3 linked regions of the Homo sapiens genome follow. The protein of the gene in region 2 interacts with the protein of the main gene of each other region in a pairwise test. Each region holds a gene or a part of one and is shown on either strand. Other genes may lie near its edges.

Region 1 (6,844 bases), on a different chromosome or scaffold from region 2:
GGATCCCTTGGATGGGACCAGAAAGGGGCACCGTGTGTCTGGAAGCTGCCCACTGGCTGGGACTCCTGGGGGAGCGGGAGGGGCAGGGAGTTTCAGGCTCACTGTGCGTGTACACCCTGCCTGGCCCAGGTCCTCTTCCAAGGCCTTCTGGTAGAGTTTCTCTGACTAACCTGCTGTCCCCAGGAAAGGCTGTCCCAAGCCAAGCCTGGAAGTCCCCATTGGCCATGGTATCCATTTTGAGGGGTTAATGGTCTTCCCTCAGGAGGTGACACTGCCACCTGGAGCTGGGTGCATTCTGCCTGGTGCCCTGCTGACCCCAACTGCCTTTCCCCTCTGGAAGGCAGCGAACATCTGAGCTCAGGGACGAGCCCTGCTTGAGGTCAGACAGACATGCTGTCTTCATCCAGGCTGCACCCAGGCCAGATAGACCAGCAAAATCTCTGCCCGCGACTCCTCGCTGTCTACCCTGGCTCAGGCGTCTGCCAGGCCACTCGCAGGAGCCACCGAGAGGCCCTTTCCTCCCTGCCGGGGGACCCCCAAAATAACCTGTGGATGCCAAGCAGCAGGACACTGCGGTGGATGCCAGGCCGCAGTCGGAGGCTGGACGGGGAGCCCTGTCCCGTGAGCTTGCTCAGTCTGCCCCAACCACCCCCTTGGGCCTACCGACATAACTTATGATCCGTTTGAGAATCCATCAGGGATCCTTGTGAGTCCCCGACCTGCAGTTCTAGATTCATCATTTGAAAAAGCCTCTGGCCCTGGATGCATTTCCTGTTTTCAGGATTCCTCGCCTTCTGACTGCTCTCCCAGCATCTCTAGCTCACGGAGTTCACAAACTTCAGTCCCCTACAGCTCCTTGCACTTTTGTTCTATTTTTTTTAATGTTTTATTTACTTATTTATGTATTTATTTTTATGAAACGGTGTCAGTTTGTCACCTGGGCTGGTGGTGCAGTCTTGGCTCACTGCAGCCTCCACCTGCCGGGTTCAAGCAATTGTCCTGCCTCACCTTCCCAAGAAGCTGGAATTACAGGCATGCACCACCACGCCCAGCTAATTTTGTATTTTTATTAGTAGAGATAGGGTTTCACCCTGTTGGCCAGGCTGGTCTTGAACCTTATTTTTATCTTTTTTAATTTTAATTTTTTTTGAGTGAGTTTTGCTCTTGTCACCCAGGCTGGAGTGCAATGGCACGATCTTGGCTCACTGCAACCTCCACCTCCCAGGTTCAAGCGATTCTCCTGCCTTAGCCTCCCTAGTAGCTGGGATTACAGGCGCCCGCCACAACACCCAGCTAATTTTTGTATTTTTAGTAGAGGCAGCGTTTCACCACGTTGGCCAGGATGGTCTCGAATTCCTAACCCCAGGTGATCACCCACCTCGGCCTCCCAAAGTGCTGGGATTACAGGTGTGAGCCACCACACCTGGCCTATTTTTATTTTTTAATATAGACACGATCTCACTCTGTCACCCGAGCTGGAGTGCAGTGGCCTGATCAAGGCTCACTGCAGCCTCAGCCTCCTGTGCACAAGCAATCGTCCTACCTCATCCTCCCAGGTAGCTGGGACTATAGGCACGTGCCATCATGCCTGGCTAATCTTTTGATTTTTTTTAGAGATGTGGTCTCACTGTGTTGCGCAGGCTGGTCTGAAACGCCTGGCCTCAAGAGATCCTCCTACCTTGGCCTCCCAAAGTGCTGGGATTACAGGTGAGAGCTGCCCTGCCCAGCCTTTTTTGTTCTTTGTAAAGCTCTTCAGTTCCTGCTCCTTACCCGCTGGGCCCTGCTCTTTCTGCTTTGGAGCAGTTCTTCCTTCAGCAGGGAGCCAGTGTTCTGTGGGTTGGGGGGTCTCTGCCAGCAGCCAGTTTCAGCCCTGTCTTGCAGGTGGCCTTCGGAGGGACAGGTTGCAGCCCAGGCCCGCCCCCCTCCTTCCTGGAGTGTCTCACAGACTCAGGGGACACTGGCCCTCCAGGCCCTGCTTCCCCCAAGGTTTCCATCCATCGCCTCTTGATTCTTGGTAATCGGGAGCCGATGGATGCAACTCATCTCGGTTTACACTGAGTGAGACAGGCGCTGTGGGCACAGCCAAGTCTGCGGGACTCAGTCAGGTGTGAGCCTGGATGGCCCCGGACAAGGAAGCCTGTCCTCTTGCTGGGAAATTTCCGTTAAGATCGGGCCACTTCCCCTGCTTCCTAACGGTTGAGTCTGTTTGCTCTGGGCCTTTTAAGCCCAGCGTGATCCCTCTGAGTCCCTGCGGTGCATTTGCGCCATCTCCACGCTTCCTGTTGAGCCCCAGCCCAGGCTTGGTGCGGGCAGTGCTGCACTGCACTCTCCTGGTTGCCTCCTGAGCACCTCCACCCGCTTCCCCACCAGGCGTGGCTGTGTTTTCACCCCCAGTGTCCATCTGGCACCCTTCTCGATTGCCAGGTAGTTACGGTCTGTGTGGGCAACACCTGAGGGACCCAACCAAACCAAGGTCCAGGACACACTTCCGGGCAGGGGTACCGCCTCTGGTTAGCTGCTCACTCCCCAGCCCAAATCTTCCGCTGATGACTTCTGGGGTCAGAGGCCACCTAAGGGTCTAGAAAACAGTCTCCTCCAGTTGGCTACCTGCCTACGTTGGGGTTACGGCCCAATAAACCCACAGCCAAGCTGAAAATCCTAAGTGTGCGTCTTGCGCTTCCGACACAGCCAGGGCATCGCTGGATGCGCAGAGGCAGGGCTGGACACATTCTGGTGCTTGAGGGGTTCCAGGGACCACGAGTTGTTTTTCCGGTGCTCCTCACCCTTCGCCCTGGAGGGTGGGGGAGGCCGGACAGCAGTGACCAAGCTGGAGCTGCAGGTCTTCATCCCTGTGGCCCAGCCCTAAAGCAGCCTTGGGGACTTAAATTTCATTTTGCCCAGCAGGTGCACCTGGGCCAGGAACACACCAGCGCCTCCTTGTTCTTCGCAGGGAAGTGGAATCCAAGCAGGGGCCCAGATGCAGGCAGGCATCTCCTGGGAACAAGAGCCCCAGAATCCACCCCGGGGCCCCACTTCCAGGGTGGTTGCCTGGGGCGTCTGGTCAGAGCCAGACCAGAACTGAGCAGGAGCTTCCGGGCATCTGTGTGTGGGAAGGGAGAGGCAAGTCCTTCCTAACCGCCTTTTTTCCCAGTTTTCATTCAGTCTGGCCCCAAGCAGGTTCTTTTTTTCTTTTCTTTTTCTTTTTTTTTTTTTTTTTTTTGAGATGGAGTCTCGCTCTGTCGCCCAGGCTGGAGTGCAGTGGCGCGATCTCAGCTCACTGCAACCTCTGCCTCCCGGATTCAAGCGATTCTACTGCCTCAGCTTCCTGAGTAACTGGGATTACAGGCGTGAGCCACCGCGCCCGGCTCCCGAAGCCGGTTTTCTGTTCTCTTGCAGCTGGGCCGGGGCTGAGCCCTCGGTGGGGGCAGGGGTTGCAGACCTGTGGACGCAGGGCCCACGCCGCACACACGTGGCCCCCGCCAGGTGACTCACGAGCCAGCGCCTGCGCGGCGGGGTGGCCACCGGGTGCAGGTTCAGGGCCAGGGGCCGGGCCTCCTGGGGATTGGCAGGGCGCCCGCCGCGGTCCCATGTGCCTGGGGCCGGTCCCCGGGCGGTGGCCTTCGGCCCTGCGCTCCGGCCTGGAGAAGGGAGGACGCCAGGGGCCCGGGGGAGTGGAGGCGGCCACGCAGCAGCCCCGGAGCACCCGCGCGTCCGCAGGCCGGGCCCACCGCGCTCGGCGCCCCTCGCGGCCGCTTTAAGGCGCCGGGCCCGCCTCAATCGCAGGGGGCGTGGCCTAGCGGTCCCGCCCCCGGGGCGCGCGCGCGCATTGGCTGTGCGGGGTGCGGGCGCGCGGGCGGCGCTTTGAACCGGGCGCGGGGCGCGGGGCGCGGGGCGCTGCGGCCGGTACACGCCGGGGTAGGGCCGGGGTCGGGTTGTGGTCGGGCCGGGATTGGGCTCTCCTGGGCCATGGCAGCCGAGGCGCGCGTGTCGCGCTGGTACTTCGGGGGGCTGGCCTCCTGCGGGGCCGCCTGCTGCACGCACCCGCTGGACCTGCTCAAGGTGAGGCCGGGGCCCGGGACGCGGGGCGGATGGGACCCTGGCGCCGCCGAGACGCCTGCAAAGGCAGCAGCCCGGCCCCACGCACCCGGGGATCGCCGCGCCCGGGGCTCCCTCCTGGAGAGCGCGAGGAGGCCCCCGACGCCCGGATGGCCGATCCCGGGTGGCCCTCCAGTGGTGGCCGCCGAGCTCGAGGCCTGCAGGGCGCAGCCGCGCTCCCCAGCTTCCCAGCCGGCTTCCCAGTTCTCGGCAGGTGGCGATCCAGCCCCAGCTCTACACTTTAATACCTGGTGACCTTGGGGGAGTCACTTGGCCTCTCTGAGCCACCCACCCCCATACATTCAAGAACGCTCCTTCCGCCTAGTTAGAAGTTGTGGGGGGAGTTCTGTGAGGTGCACAGGTGTTGGCATCTAGAGACGTGCTGGCTGTAGCATACCCAGGGTGTGGGCCAAGCCGCCCCCCACCCAGGGGTGTTTAGCACACCGCCGGACGTGTCCCTGGGCAAGTGGGGTGACCCGATGCCCCGGCTTTGGGCTGCTTCCTTCGGAGAGCTGCGTGGGCACTGGAAGCGATGTTAGGACCAGCACACCCCCAGGAGAGATGCCAGGAGACCCTGCACGCGTGTGGTCCTGGCCCTATGAAAGCGGGCGTTTCTCAGCACGAGAAGCAGCCACCGTTTTTTTACTTTTTTTTTTTTTTTAATGCTTATGGGGCAAAATAAGACAGAGCTCTCCTTGTTTCCCAGGGACAGCCAAGGGGCGTTGTTTTCTGACCGTGTCTTGCCACAGAGAACAAAGAAGAAAGGGCCTGAGGCTTTGCACAGTCTGCCCAGCAGGCCCTGCCCTGTGAACCTGGCTGTGGTCACTGGGCAGCCGCCTGTCTAGGGGACCTTTATTTTAGCAGCCTGTCCAGGGGACTTGTATTCCAGCAGCCTTTGAGGGGACTGGCTTTACTAATGAGCAACAATGCTGGTCGCTGCGTGAAGGCCAGGTGAGCAGATGTGGGCGTCTTGGGGCACCTGAGACCTCACTGGTCCTGGGAGAGGCCTTCAGAGCTCCCAGGCCACAGGCAGCCACGGCCAGTGAGATGCAGCCACAGCGACAGGAAGGCGCTGGCATGGGCAGAAGAAGCGAGCCCCTCCTTGGCATCGGGCTCTTCCTTTCCTCCTGGGCGCCGCACAGGTGCCCCTCCCCCAGGGCCTCTCCCACGTTCATCTGGGTGTTGAAGGCGGGACCTGCGTGCTGCTGTCCCTTGTCCGGGGTCTGAGCCCCACTGCCCCTTGGCCCTCCCCAACCAGGCGCTCTCTGGCTGCAGAACACCGCCTGGGGGAGGCGGGACTGCCCTCTGGCCTGGGAGGGCGGGAGGAGCCAGCTGCTGGCAGCATATGGCGCTGTGGTCAGGGTGTGCTCCTGAGGACTGCTCACCAGGCCTCTCTGCCTGGCCGTCGGAAAGATCTTTTAAAGCTTCTTGAGCACTTTGTCCCATGTCCCTACAGTCCCTACCGTCGCATCTGGCCGGGACGGGGGCTGCTACCTGTGTGGCCCAGTCCCTCTGTTCTGCTGGGCTCGCACAATGGGAGGCCCCTCTCTGTCCCCACCCATCTTTGCCGACCCCTGGGCGTGCGTTACGGGGCCGCGCACGTGCAGGTCACACTGAGCGGCGGAAGGACTTCTTTGGGGTCAGTGCTGGGGGTGGGACCCAGGAGCTGGGATCCTGGGCCAGGTGCTGGCCTTCCTGTCTGGCCCTGGCCAATCCCCCTACTGCCGGGAGCTCTCAGCTGGCCAGGCGAGGAGGCAGAGGTCCTGTGAGTGGTGGAGGCCAACAGAATGGGAGGTTGTCGGGCTGACAGCCCCCGAGTGCCTGCCCACAGCTCCTAGGTGCTTTGCAGAGGAGGCCGCTATGCCCTGCCGCCAGCCACACCGTCCCCTTGTCTGCTGCTGAGCTCCTGCTGCCTTTCAAGGCCTTCTATGGCTACCTCCTCAGTCTCCCATGGTCCTGCAGGCTCCCTCGCCGTTTCTGAGCGGCCATAAACGTTTGTCCCTCTTGAGACGTGGTGTGGTGGATAAAAAGTAGGGCTCTGGGGTCTCCTCGCTGGGCCCAAATCCTGATGGCACCAGCGGGTGCGTTACCTCTCCATGCCTCAGTTTCCTCATCTGCAGAAGGAGAATGGCGAGCCCCTGCGGCCAGTGCAGCCAATACTCAGGTGGTACGCGGGGCGCTCGCGGGGCTCGCGGACACTCTCAGCTCCATGTCCACTGGTGTGGTTGCTGTTGGAAAGCAGTGGTGTGAGCTGGTTCCAGGCACGGGTGTGGAGTCCCCGGGCAGGGCCGTGGGAGGCCTTATCACTGCCTCCTGCCTCAGTTTCCCCCTCTCTGGATGAACCTGGCACCGATCCCTCGGGGTCGCTGTGGGGTCTGAGAGCACTCACTCCCGCAGGTGCATCTGCAGACGCAGCAGGAGGTGAAGCTGCGCATGACGGGCATGGCGCTGCGGGTGGTGCGTACCGACGGCATCCTGGCACTCTACAGCGGCCTGAGCGCCTCGCTGTGCAGACAGGTGCGTGGTGTGTGCCAGCCTTGGGCTCCCAGACTGGGGCTGAGTCCTGCAGTGGCATCCAAGCTACTTCCGTCCCCTTTTCAAGACTTTGTGCAAGGAAGGACCCACCAGGCCGAGAGCTGGTGACCCCAGGGTGCGCCTCCCATGGGCACCCACCCAGTTTGCAGGGCTGGGCCTGAGACCGCCACTTACTGGTGGGGAAGCTGAGGCCCAGGGAGTGAGAAAGCAGGGT
Region 2 (7,027 bases):
CTAAAAATAAGAGAAAGAAAAACAAAAAACAAATGCCTTCCCACCAAAAAAAAAAAAAAAAAAAAAAAAGAGGCACACAGTCTATGCCATCCAATGTCACGTCCTTCTTGCTGTGCTTTTACAAGCTCAGCCAGCCCTCACCCAAAGTGTTTTTTTTTTTTCAATGGTGCAAAGTTTTGCTGACCTGTTTCTTTCACTCACTTACATCTGGGCTGTTAACTGTGTATCTGAGATTTGCTCAAATATTTAGCTGAATACTTTTAAAATAATTTTCCATCAAATCCAACTCAGCATTATATTCATTCACTGCCAAGAAAGGTCACCCCTACAGTAAAAGTTAAGATGAATCCCGAATTCAGAAATGCAAAAAACAATTTGTTTAGGGAAATATGAAATGTTACACATTAGCTTCTTTATTGAAGAGGCAGCTCAGACCTATTTATATATGCAAAAGTATAGGATGACAAAGTATGTAATGATTCTTTAACCTTCTCAAATATTTCACTTAAAATATACATTATGCTAAGCTTTAAGGACAGCGTAGGAAATCTTAGTAGTTGCCATCAAAATTACTATAAATATGTATTTCCTGCACAGAATTATGCAAAATCTGCCATTTAATTCCTGTTGTGCAGCATATTCATACACATCTAGAAAAATATGATTAGAGTGATGAGCGACACAAATGTTAGCCATTTGTGATTTTAGAAAACTTTTATGGAAAGTTTAACACACATGCAGAAAAATACACATATCTTAAGTGCACAGCTCAAAACACACTCAAATACTTAGCACCTAGGTTTAGAAACAGATTATTCCCAGCACCAGATAAATGCCCCCTTTCAGCCTTGGCCAAGGCTAACTGCTACCCTAATTTTAAACCACGTATACAAGTTTTGCCCGTCTTTATAATTTATATAGAAGGAATCATACAGCATGTTGGCTTTTGTGTCTGGAGTCTTTCATTCAGCAAGGTTTGTTAAATTCAGCTGCGTTATTACACGGACTTCTAGTTCATTCATGCTCACTGTTTTACAGTATTCCATGGACATATGCCACTTCTTTATTCATTCCATTGCACATGTGCCTTAAGATAGTTCTGTTTTGTGCAGTTTTAGGCTATAAATATTCTAGTGCATGTCCTTTGGTGGACAGACACATGCATTTTTGCTGGGTTTGGGTAAAACAGTATACATATGCTTGGCTTTTAGTGCCAGCTTTCAAAATGGTTTTATCGATGAGCAATTCCACCAGTAGTGTACAGTTCCTCTTGCTTACATCCTTGCCAAAACGTGATGCTTTTTCATGCTTTTCATTTTAACCATTTCCATGGATGGGTAGCAGTGCTACATGTTTTAAGTTTGCATTTCCCTGATTACTAATAAAGCTAACACATCTTTTCATGCTTATTGGCCGTCTGGATATCCTCTAAAGTGAGTGGATATCCTCTAAAGTCTTTTGCCTTTTCCAGTTTCCCCCTTGTTGATTTGTAGGTGCTCTTTACATATTCGAGATCAGGGACCAGAAAACTATGAGTGCAGACCAAATCCAGACTGCCACCTGGGATTGTGAATGGTTTTACTGGGAAGCAGCCATGCTCATTTTTTTTTTAATGCATGGTGTATGGATGCTTTCACACAATAGCAAAGATGAGCAGTTGTGACAAAGCTGAAAATTTTCACCATCTGGTGCCTTGCTTTATAAAGTTTGCCAACACTTCTGCTATACTCGGTGCTGTTGTCACATACATGAACTGCAAATATCTTCTCCTCCCCATGATTTCCTGTTCATTTTCTTACTGGTGGTCTTTCTGATAAATAGAAGTTCTCAAATTTAATATTAAGTTCTAATTTTATGGGTTAATGCTTTTTGGGTCTCAATAAACCTTTGCTTACTCCAAGATTACAAACTGTCCTAAGATTTCTTTGTAAAGCTTTCACATTTCATATTCAGATCTGCAATCCACCTCCAAATAACTTTTTATCAAATTACAAAATTTTATTGGCAAAGTACATTTACTGGAAAGAACACCCTTTCCCCCACTACACTTCAATGTCACCTTTCTCAAAACTCAGGTGATGGTATACACGTGGGTCTACTTTTGAATCTGTATGCTGTTCCACTAGTCAGTTTTTTCATCCTTGTGCCAAATTAACACCTTCATTATTTCTATGGCTTTATAACAGGTCTTGATATTTAGAAATTTCAATCCTCTCTGTCCATTCTACAGGATAGCCTTGACAATTATTCGACTTTTGAATATGCATATGAATTCTAGAATTAGCTTGTTAATTTACATTAAAGAACTTGCTAGGATTTTAAGGTTGCAATGAATTTAGGAAAAAGCAATAGTTTTGAGATTGTCCTGGAATCCTATCCCTCTCCTCCTTTGTAATTTTATTTTCTGGATACAGTTCTTCAAAGCATATTAACTCATTTTCTCCCTCTAGGCACTTGAGGGATCTTTGAAGTGGCATTGCTTTTCAAAATTTCATTTTCCATGTTTTTTGCTGGTATATCATAAAATGCTTTTTGCATAACTTTTATGCAGGGAACTTACCAAATTTACTCATGGCATCTGCAAATAGAGATTTATATTCTTTTTCGTTTTTAAAGTTTTACTTCTTTTCTAATCTCTATGCCTTTTGTTTCTCTTCCTTGCATTAGTTTTCTGGTTAGGTCCTTCTGAACAATGCCGAATAAAATCATTGACAGCAGATATCCTTGTCTTATTTTTATAATCTTAGGAGAAATGTTCACTATTTCATCATTAAGCATATTGTTTGTTGTAGTTTAAGTCTCTTTATGCAGTTAAGTAAGTCCCTTTCAATCCATCATTTGCTAAGATCATAAACGAACATTAATTGTACCACAAGAATGTTCTGCATGCCAGATTACTTTTCTACAGGTGGTGTATAATAGCAACTGACTTGTGAATATTAAGCCACCTTTGCATTCCTGGAACACAATCTATTTGATTACCATTTTACCTTTTCCCAGAACAAGTCCATCTTTGTTTTGTTTACCCAGTATCAGGTCATATGACCACTATAAAACAAGTTACTGGCAAAGAGAATGAAATCATTATTATTTTGACTAATCAGGATTCCCCTGTGTCATGTGAAGAAGTGGTAGGTACCTAAACTGTTCCAGCAAGAAATGGAGCGAGGACATTAAGTTAATTGATCAAAAAATATCTGCTAGAAACTTGAATCAATTTGTTCTGAAATACTGGGAAAAAGGAGAATGCACAAAACAATGACACTGTATTTGTACCAAACAGAAGTTTGTGAATAAAATTTCTAAATTACAAAATATTGGCACTAGGCACACTCAAACCTATGGGTTAAAAAACAAGGGTGGTGTGAGAGCTGGGGATATTTTAGAGTATGGGCAGTATGCTTGTTCTCTTTCACTGAAATAGACTTAAACAATTCCAAATTATGTATGTATAGTTTATCAAAATAGTCTTTTAGAAAATCTTATCTTACTCAGATGCAGTTGAAAACTTTACAAAACGACTGCCTCCTGTACTAATGAGGCATTTGTTAAAAACCCATTTGTAAATTCCTCTAAATAGAAAACTAGGTATTTTACCATTTTATACCTATTAAATATTATCTCACCAACAATATGTCCTGTCTTAATACATTTTGCCATCCTAATACTCAAATAAGAAAACTGCCTCTTCACAAGTCATCCAATTCCAAACTTGCATAGAATTACCATTAGATTGCATTTTTAAGACATGATAAAAAACGGCCATATACTTATTTAATGCTACTGTCCTCATGATCAACTCCTGACAATTTAAAAACTTCATTTTATACAATGAAGATTTATTCAGAGCTCATAGCCTCTGAGATCTTTCCTGTAAACACCTGATTTTCCATTAGAAATATGGCTTTTACAACAAATTTCCAAGACAATATATTTTCCACATTCACCATATTGACAGATTTTGCCTTTGTATGATTCCCTGATATGTAAATACAATTTGAATCCAAAATAAATATTAAATATTTATAAAACTTCACTCCTATATAAATTAGTGTCCGATGAGTCGTATGATCTTGCTGAAGGCTTTGCTTCTTGTTACATTCTTCGGGATTCTTCTCTGTGAAAATTTGGATTAAAATGACTCTAATGCCTAAATGCTTCTCACCGTTCAGGAACACGAACTCTCAGATAAACGCTTTGACTTCCTATTGGATTCCCCATATTCATTATATTCAGAGAGTTTTCTAAAAATTGAGATCTGACTTCAGAGATTTTCCACATCAAGTACGTTCATATTTCCTCTTCTATGAATTCTCTGATGGCTATTGAAGGCTGATCTGTGGTGGAATTTTTTCCCACACTCGTTACATTCATAGGGTTTCTCTCCTGAATGAGTTCTATAGTGTACAGTGAGGTATGACTTCTGAGAAAAGACTTTCCCACATTCATTACATTCATAGGGTTTCTCTCCTGAATGGCTTCTGTAGTGGACAGTGAGGTTTGACATCCGAGAGAAGACTTTTCCACATTTACTACATTCATAGGGTTTCTCTCCTGAATGAATTCGATGATGTATAGTGAGATATGATTTCTGAGAGAAGAATTTTCCACATTCGTAACATTCATAGGGTTTCTCGCCTGTGTGTACTCTTTGATGTCTGAAGAGGGATGAATTATGGGAAAAGGTTTTCCCACATTCGCTACATCCATAAGGTTTCTCTTCTGAATGACTTCTATAATGTTCAGTATAGTATGACAACTCATTGAATAACTTTCCACATACATTACATTCATAGGATTTCTCCCCTTTTGGAAGTGGCTGGTGCCCATCGAAGGCTGAATTTACAAGGAAGGTTTTCCCACATTCATTACATTCATAGGGTTTCTCTTCTAAATGAGCTGTATGATGGTCGGTGAGATACAACTGAGAGAACTTTCCACATTCACTACATTCATGGGATTTCTCTTCTGTGTGTACTTTCCGATGTCTAATGAAGGCTGAATTTAAATTGAAGGTTTTGCCACATTCATTACATTCATAGGGTTTCTCTTCTAAATGACTTCTATAATGTATAGTGAGGTATGACACCCGAGAAAAGAATTTCCCACACTCGCTACACTGATAGGGCTTCTCTCCCGTGTGTGTTCTCTGATGTGTAATCAGAGTAGACTTTCGGTAGTAGGATTTCCCACATTCATTACATTTATAAAGCTTCTCTCCCGTGTGAGTTCTCTGATGGTCACTGAGAGCAGACTTGCGGGAGAAGGATTTCCCACATTCGTTACATGGATAGGGCCTCTCTCCTGAATGATTCCTCTGGTGCAGGGTGAGATGTGTCTTTTGGCAGAAGGTTTTCCCACATTCGCTACATTCGTAGGGTTTCTCTCCTGAATGAGTTCTTAGGTGTTGAGTGAGGTGTAACTTCTGACAAAAGGTTTTCCCACATTCATTACATTTATAGGGCTTCTCCTCTAAGTGTGATCTCCGATGTACAGTGAGGGTTCCCTTTTGGCTGAAGGATTTCCCACATACATTACATTCATAAGGTTTCTCTCCTGTGTGAGCCCTCTGGTGGATGATGAATTTTGACTTTTTACAGAAGGATTTTCCACATTCACTGCATTCAAAGGGCTTCATTTCCATTTGTGATCTCTGATATGCATTAAAATTTGACATCTGTATGAAGTCTGGTCCAGAATCATTCCACTCATAGGGCTTCTCCCCTATGTAAGCTCTCTTATGAGCAATAAAAACAGCCTCATTGTCTAAGGCTTCCATGCATTCATTATATTCAAAGGGTTTCTCCAAAATACTAATTTTCTGAAGAATATTTTCTTCATTGTGAGAATAGGTATCCCCATTTTGATTAAATTCACACATTTTCTCTCCATGATATGTTTTCCCACATTCATTACACTCATCAGGTTTTGTCCTAGCATAGCTTCCATCACTACTAATTAATTGCGAAATAGATTCTAAATTCTTTCCACATGAGACACAATTATGAGCTATTATGCTTGAAGGAACAAGGCTTGTTTCCATGTAAATTTGACTAAATGTATTCTCTTTCTCTTCAGTCAGGGTTTTGCTATTGATACAAGCAGCTTGCCTTGAATGTTTGTCTTCGTTTTCTTGGATTCTCTCTATCAGGTCATCAACTCTCCAGGCTTCTAAAAAGGAAAAATAGTAAACAAACTTTGTAAATCTGAACACACTAGCTATGGAAAGGTACTGGTATTCAAGAGCCCCCATTGTGGGGTTGACTCTGGCTTTAGAGCCAATCTCCATAAATAAAAATAATTACAAATGCATAGTTCTCTTTTTCCTTTGGTTTGGAATACAAAACAGAAACACACACACACACACACACACACACACACACACACAGTGAAAGAATTAAGGTGAGACAGTGGTAGAAAATAGAAGAGTAAATTCATATTGAATACAGGTAACTTTGTTGCTTTACAAATATTATGTTTCAAACTTTGGTAGAAAAGGTGAAATAAAACCAAATGATGAGCAGAGAAGTGGTTGAAAGTACGTCAGATCCAGGCAAAGATGGGAGGACTTAGATCAAATGTGTTGTGGGAAGTCAGGGACCCCAAACGGAGGGACTGGCTGAAGCCATGGCAGAAGAACATGGATTGTTAAGATTTCATGGACATTTATTAGTTCCCCAAATTAATACTTTCATAATTTCTTATGCCTGTCTTTACTGCAATCTCTGAACATAAATTGTGAAGATTTCACGGACACTTATCACTTCCCCAATCAATACCCTTGTGATTTCCTATGCCTGTCTTTACTTTAATCTCTTAATCAGCTGAGGAGGATGTATGTCGCCTCAGGACCCTGTGATAATTGCGTTAACTGCACAAATTGTAGAGCACGTGTGTTTGAACAATATGAAATCTGGGCACCTTGAAAAAAGAACAGGAAAACAGCAATGTTTAGGGAACAAGAGAGATAACCTTAAACTCTGACTGCCGGTGAGCCGGGTGGAACAGAGCCATATTTCTCTTCTTT
Region 3 (7,027 bases), on a different chromosome or scaffold from region 2:
GTTACAATCTAACTGCTATTGAGTACAAATTAGAACTTTTCATTCTATTTCAAACTTCTGTAAATAGGGCTTGTACATTTTTTAAAAATACGTTTAGTTTGCGATGTGTGACTACGTAATGGAAGCTGAGTAACTTTTCTTTTTTCATTGACACTCATTTTACCTGGCAGTTCCTTTTTGTGTCTCTGGTTCCACTTCAAGCTGCAGTTCAATGTACTAAAACTGCATTCCTTAAAACGAAGTACTATATCAGACTTTTAAACTGGCCTTTTCCATCCCTATATCTCTGGATGGCCTGTGCCTGGGGCAGCTCACCTGATACGGCGTCGGCGGCTTCTGCCTCCCATTTTACAGGCGTGTGGAGAGAGCTCTGTTATGAAGCAGACCCTGCAACCCAAGGGGTCGGCCCTTTGTAGGAAGCCAGTCAGGCACAGGGGGATCAACAGCCTGGGGGAGGTGTCCACGGTGCAGGTGTCTATACCGGGACTAGGTGTCTGGTGTGAACCCACACAAGTTGTTGAACCTGTCTGAGCCTCAGTTTCCTCAACTGTAAAAAGGACATGGTAAGACCTATATCAGAAAATGCCTGGCACATGGCAGGCATTTGACAAATTATCTTATTATGAAGCATGCAGCCCACCCAGAAGTTTGTTGAATGCTTTGCTGTTTCCCCAGCTGACTTCATTCCCAGAGTTAAGCCACATCAGAACCCTGTGCCCTAAAGAAAGTTCAACCCAAAAATCTGAGTTCTGAGACACACAGTAGGGGCTTGCAGTCCATGGGGAGGGTAATGACGAGCAATAGGAAATGTGCCAGAGGACACGTCGCAGAAGATGTGTCAGATGCCAGAAAGAATGCTCGCTGGGGAAATAGCAAATACACTCTGTAGTATCTGTGGCCAGGACAACCACAGCCTAGGAACAAACTGTGTCCTGAGTAAATGCAGAATCAAGCTGTGGTGAGATACCAAGAGGGGACAGGAAAGCAAAACAGATCATGACCAAGAACAGGAGCTGAGATGGTGACCAAACCCCTGCTAGCCAGAGAACGTGCACCAATTCTCTGCCTTGGGAGGAATCCACGGTCAAAGCTAAACTCACACTTTCATAGTATGTGTGTAATTAGTTGAAAAGCTTAATTTAACAGTTTGGTAAATTCCATTAGCAGTTTATCTGTGGTATGTAATGAAGCTATTTTTAAGTGAATCCTTTTTGGCTAAAGGCCCCAGTGAAGAATCCTAATGGAACATGGTTCACATAATACAAACCCAGATCCGTGCAGATGCTAGAAACCTTCTCGAGTAGACACTAATGTGCCCAGACAGGGAAGCTGTGCTTGACTCTGTACAATGACACCCCTGTCTAGATGAAGCAGGAAGAATCAGAGAGTCCAGAATCAAGTCCCAGCTCTGAAATTACACTGCCTCGGGTATGTTACTTACATCTGTGGTGCTCACTTTCCTCATCTGGAAAGGGTGGGTGATCATACTACCTTACAGGACCCTGGGGAGAAATATGCAAGGTTCTGTACAAAGTACTTAGCCCACAGGAGGGCAGTCTCACAGAAGTGCTTTTGATTGAAGCAGATAATTTTTTTTTTAAACCCAAACAAACAGAAAGGAATAAGAGAGAAATGGCAGCAGAAAGATTACCCAAGTCGACAGGACATCTGATGGTGAGGCCATTGTGCAGAGAGCGAACTGAGACGGTATCACTGTATGACTTCCTGGAGCCACAGTTAAAACCAAACCTTCTCCAACCCCATCAGTTTGAGAAGAGGAAACAATTCACAATGTGAATATACTTACTGCCACTGCGCAGTATACTTAAAATGGTTAAAATGATACATTTTATGTTATGTATATTTTATCACAATGAAACAGTGAAGATCCAAAAACAAACAAACAAAAAACCCTAAACCTCAACTCTCTGCCCACTGAAGACAGTCCAATAAAAATAACATAAAGAAGAGTTGGATGGCCTTCCCTCTGTGGGATTCTGTAGGGAAGGCTGTGTCCATGCACCCAGATGCCACACCAAAGGCCCTGTGAGTCAAGATCTCCATCCTGTGGATGATCTGTATCCGGGGTGTCTGTTCAATCCAAACTCCCAGAAGACCCGAAAACCAAAAAGCTACCGCAGGCCATGGCACCACTGAAAGATCTAGAGGTTCTTCTGCTGAACAATGTGTTATCCCTGATGGTATCTCCCCAATGGCAATTTCTGACCGTGATTCAGATGACACTACCCACAGAAATGAACTTCCAAGAACTCCTCCTCCCTCAATCCCACCGTGTCCTCCTCTGGGGATGGTGGCGCTGCTGCTGTCTTGCTCACAAAACCTGCCTTGGGAAGAAAGCCCCTAAAATTTCAGCCCTGCTCAGGTTAAGAAATAGTAGCTTTAGGCCAGGTGCAGTGGCTCACACCTGTAATCTCAGCACTTTGGGAGGCCAAGGCAGGCAGATCATTTGAGGTCTGGAGTTTGAGACCATCCTGGCCAAGATGGAGAAACCCCGTCTCTACTAAAAATACAAAAATTAGCCAGGCATGGTGGTGCATGCCTGTAATCCCAGCTACTTGGGAGGCTGAGGCAGGAGAATCGCTTGAACCCAGGAGGTGTAGGTAGGTTGCAGTGAGCCAAGATCATGCCATTGCGCTCCAGCCTGGGCAACAAGAACAAAACTTCGTCTCAAAAAATAAAATAAAATAAAATAAAATAAAATAAAATAAAATAAAATAAAGAAAGAAAAGAGAAGAGAAAAGAAAAAAGAAATAGTATCTTTGACAAACCATCTCCTTCCCTACAGAAAAACAAAACCTGGCTGAAGGCAGGAGGTGTCTCTCTGGCCAGTGTCTCTCATCTCCCTCCCGCTGACCTCCCTGACCCCATTCATGTCTTCAGAAGGGCATGGCCCTGTCGAGGGGGTGAAGGGCTGTTCCTGTGCCTCAGGGCCCTGTGCTGTAAATGCTTCCCAGCCTGGGCTGTACTTCTAGGTGCAGCTCAAATCCTACCTCCTCTCTAAAGCCATGAGAAATATACTTTACTTACTTGCCTATAAACACTAACATCATTGGTTATTTTTCATATCATCTCCTGCTATGAGCTAAATTATGTCCCCCCGACAATTCATATGTTGAAGCCCTAACTCTCAATGTGATGGTATTTGGAGGTGAGGACTTTAGGAGGTGATTAGGTTTAGATGAGGTCATGAGGGTGGGGCCCTCATGATGGGATTAGTGCCCATCATGAAGAGACACCAGAGAGCTCTCTCTCTCTCTCTCTCTCCCCATCTCTCTCTCCTCCCTCTTCCCCACCCTTCCTCCACCCTCCCTCTCCCTTCTTCCTCTCCCATTCTCTCCCTCTCTGTGCCATGTGAGGACACAAAAAGAAAGTGGCTTTCTGCAAGCCAAGGAGAGAACCTTCACCCACCAAACTGGCACCATGATGTTAGACTTCCAGCCTCCAGAACTGTGAGAAAATAAATTTCGGTTGTCTGTGATATTTTGTTCTGTCTGCCAGAACAAAGACATCCCCTCAAAGGGAGTATGCATGCCTACTACAGGGACCACCCCTCTCTTCTTAGACCAGACCCCCTGCAGGACCCTTTGCTGGCACAGCAGGGACTTAGCATGCATGGAAGCTAATTAGGTGAGAGACTCTGCTTCTGCCTCCTGGAGAATTTCAATCCAAGACAAGCACAACAAGTTGTGAAGGACCAACAAGGGGAGGAGTACATCTCAACAAGTTGGTTGAGAAGGACCAACAAGGGGAGGAGTACACCCTTAGCATGGAACTCAACCACAAGCTCTCAAAACAGGTAATGTCACCATGACCCATGGGATCACATGTGCGTGGACCACGTGCTTCCTCACATCCCTTAACTCACCTGACATGGATCAACAGGTAACTCCTGTATTCTCACTTGAATGAAGAGAAGAGAAACTCAGGTTTAGAGGCTAATCCCAAAGACATATGACTGGTTAGAGTAGAACCCAGACTCTGCACTAAGCATTCAGAGGCGGCAGGCTGTGGAACGCTTGAGGACTTGGCCCTAGAGCCAGACTGCCTGGGTTCAAATCCCAGCTCGGCCTCTTATCAGCTGTGTGACCCTGGAAAAGTTACTCAGCCTCTTGAAACAGATGAGGAAGATGGCTTCCTCATCTGTAAAATGGGGAGGATGATCATAACAGTGCCTATTTCATAAAACGGTTACAAAGATGAGTTCATTTATGCCAAACTCTCAGCCATGCCCAGTGTGTTTCTGTGCATCAACCTTGAGGTGCAGTGGAAAGAGAGTCCCTGGAGTTCCGTCTTTGGTCAAGGTGGGGCTGCAGGAAGCTGGCCTCCCTCCCGCATCAGCACCAATCCAACCCTCTATCCCAGTGGGTGAAGGTATGTGGTTATGTGCAGCGGACAATGTGGCAAAGCTGCATCCATTTACCAAGAGAACTCTGATGGACTACAAATCCTGGACCTCAATGCTGAGCAATCTCTAAAGTAAACAAAGTGAAAATAAACCAATCACCCAGGTAATAGAAGATTTTCCTCTTGTCTGCACTGGTAATTGGGTCATGGTAGCCAACCTCCCACGTCCCCTGGTGCTGCTGTGAGTTTAAAAGAGAGTAAAGGAAGCTGTCTGGCCAGAAACACGAGTGCAGGTTCCGGGAGGAGGGCAGCCACACCCGCTGGTTCCAGCTTGTCCTGGTGCACCTGTAGCACGTGTGCTACGTCTCACCCTTCTCACCTTTCCTCTAACTAAGCCCAGAAGGGCACAGAGCTCCACAGGCTCAGGGGTGCACCCAGAAGGGCACAGAGTTCCACAGGCTCAGGGGTACACCCAGAAGGGCACAGAGCTCCACAGGCTCAGGGGTGCACCCAGAAGGGCACAGAGTTCCACAGGCTCAGGGGTACACCCAGAAGGGCACAGAGTTCCACAGGCTCAGGGGTGCACCCAGAAGGGCACAGAGTTCCACAGGCTCAGGGGTACACTACGAGCACAGGACTGGGTGTTAAGCCTATCCAACCTCACTGCTGGGACTTGCTTGGGTAAAACACGGTTTCCACTTTCCCACAAGTTCTCAGGCCCAGCCTCACATTTTTCCACCCCCAGGCAGGGCAGCTCTATTGTGTGAATAAGGGATCTTCAGCACAGATGGGGTGGGGACAGAGGCCCTTGGAATCTGAACCACAGGGGAAGCTTGCCTGCTCCTACCTCCATGCATCTTCTAGAAACACCTGGAGCATCACCCAGAGTCAGACTCCACCCACCATAGAGCCTGCTGCCCCATAAATGCCTCCCTTGGCCAGCCCCATCCAGGATGTGTCAACAAACAGACAAGGGAAGAAAGTGTCCCGCTGGCATTCCGAGAAAGCCAGGGCTGGGAGCCAAAACACACCGACAAGGGGGATGCTCTGTCTCCTGAAGAATCTGTCACAAAAGAAAATTCTATAGCCCTCAAGCTGGAAGAGGCCCTGGAGATAACTTTGTCATCACAGGGTGGCACCCTCTAGTTGCCCCAGGCAGATGAGGTCCTAGAGGAACCCGTCCCTAATATTGAACTTCAAGAGGTCCTTCCTGTATCTAACTCAGCCTTCAGAGAAAGGGCAGAGCAGTTACAAGGCAAGGATGACTGAGAACTCCAACACCTGAGGCCAAGACTCAGCACTGTGTACAAGGTGTGGAGCCTGTAGAGGACAAACCTGACTGAGGGTTGTCCTCCCCCTCACCTCAGCCTGACTGCAAATTTGTTTATGTCATCCGGATGACGTCATGCTAACTTGACCAGTTGGAGCAGCTGTGAGGGAAAACAGACCCCAAAGGTCCCTCTCCTGAGTCCTGTGAGGGGAAGGGGGTGTCTTTGTGTGGATGCTGTTGGTGAGTAGAGAGCCAATGGAGCATAACGCTTACAGTGCAGGCTCTGAAATAGCCAAGCTGCCTGAGTTCAAATCCTGCCTCTACCGTGTATCGGCTGTGTGACCATAGACATGATACTGTGCCTCTCTCTTCCTCAGTTAACTTTTCTATAAAATGGGCATGATGGCAGTGCCTAGCCAATTGGGTTGTAGTGAGGCTTCCATAAGGGAATACATGGACAGCCCTTGGGCCATGCCTGGCACTTTCTTTGCATTGCTCTTGTGAAGGTGACCAGTTTGCCTGGAACATCCTGGCTATGCTTGTGGTCCCAGCATTGCTATGAATATTCCCCCTTTCACTCCCGGCAGTGCCCGAGGTTGGATGATGTATTATAAGAGTGACTCCCTTTGGCTTCTTCATGTCCACCTGGTTATCTCCCTGCTTCATGCTGCCTCTGAGTACTGGGGAGCCAGGTTCCCAAAATATAGGTCCCCAAAGTAGGTTCTGCCCATGCCACTGAGCTGTCTGCTCCACAAACTCAGCTCTTCCTCTTTTCCTTCTTCTCTGCACTTTGTCTCTTCTCCTTCCTTGATCCTTACAGCCATCCTCTCCTTTCCTGCTTCCCTGTCCGTGCCTTAGGATTCTGCTGGTGCACACAGGTACCGTCTGGCTTTATTGGGACTTCCCCCTGACCCTGTACTTGGACGGAACCCTTTATGGCTCTAACTAAACTGTGCCTTATCAAATTTCTCTCAGAGGAAAGGAAGCGATTTGAAAAGGCAAAGAAATGACCAATAGATGGATGAGTGGAACAATGTGCTGGTTTTTGTTGTTGTTGTTGTTGCTGTTTCTTTGTGTGTGTGTGTGTGTGTGTGTGTGTGTGTGTGTGTGTGTGTGTGTTGTGTTGGTAGGAACAAAAAGTGTACCAGTTTGAAATGGTCCATTGAATGCTAGACCTGTCTATAGAACTGTCCCCAGGGCTATTTTTTTTATTTTTTATTTTTATTTTTTGAGACGGAGTATCGCTCTTGTCACTCAGGCTGGAGTGCAATGGCGCAATCTCAGCTCACTGCAAACACCGCCTCCCGGGTTCAACCAATTCTCCTGCTTGGCCTCCTGAATAGCTGGGATTACAGGTGCCTGCCACCAAGCCCAGCTAATTTCTGTATTTTT

Evidence for each region.
Region 1: the proteins of RBAK (region 2) and SLC25A10 interact in binary tests that used the Homo sapiens proteins (3 or more experiments, as listed by UniProt).
Region 3: the proteins of RBAK (region 2) and CRACR2A interact in binary tests that used the Homo sapiens proteins (3 or more experiments, as listed by UniProt).

Annotation. Positions count from the first base shown.
Region 1 is NC_000017.11:81,708,461-81,715,304, forward strand, and holds the start of SLC25A10 (mitochondrial dicarboxylate carrier), read left to right. Parts: upstream 1-3,823; 5' UTR 3,824-3,966; coding exon 3,967-4,059; intron 4,060-4,808; exon of another isoform or gene 4,809-5,046; intron 5,047-6,492; coding exon 6,493-6,612; intron 6,613-6,844. UniProt on the Homo sapiens protein: Catalyzes the electroneutral exchange or flux of physiologically important metabolites such as dicarboxylates (malonate, malate, succinate), inorganic sulfur-containing anions, and phosphate, across mitochondrial inner membrane.
Region 2 is NC_000007.14:5,062,839-5,069,865, reverse strand, and holds the end of RBAK (RB-associated KRAB zinc finger protein), read right to left. Parts: intron 6,172-7,027; coding exon 4,265-6,171; 3' UTR 379-4,264; downstream 1-378. UniProt on the Homo sapiens protein: May repress E2F-dependent transcription. May promote AR-dependent transcription.
Region 3 is NC_000012.12:3,743,089-3,750,115, forward strand, and holds part of CRACR2A (EF-hand calcium-binding domain-containing protein 4B), read right to left. Parts: intron 1-7,027.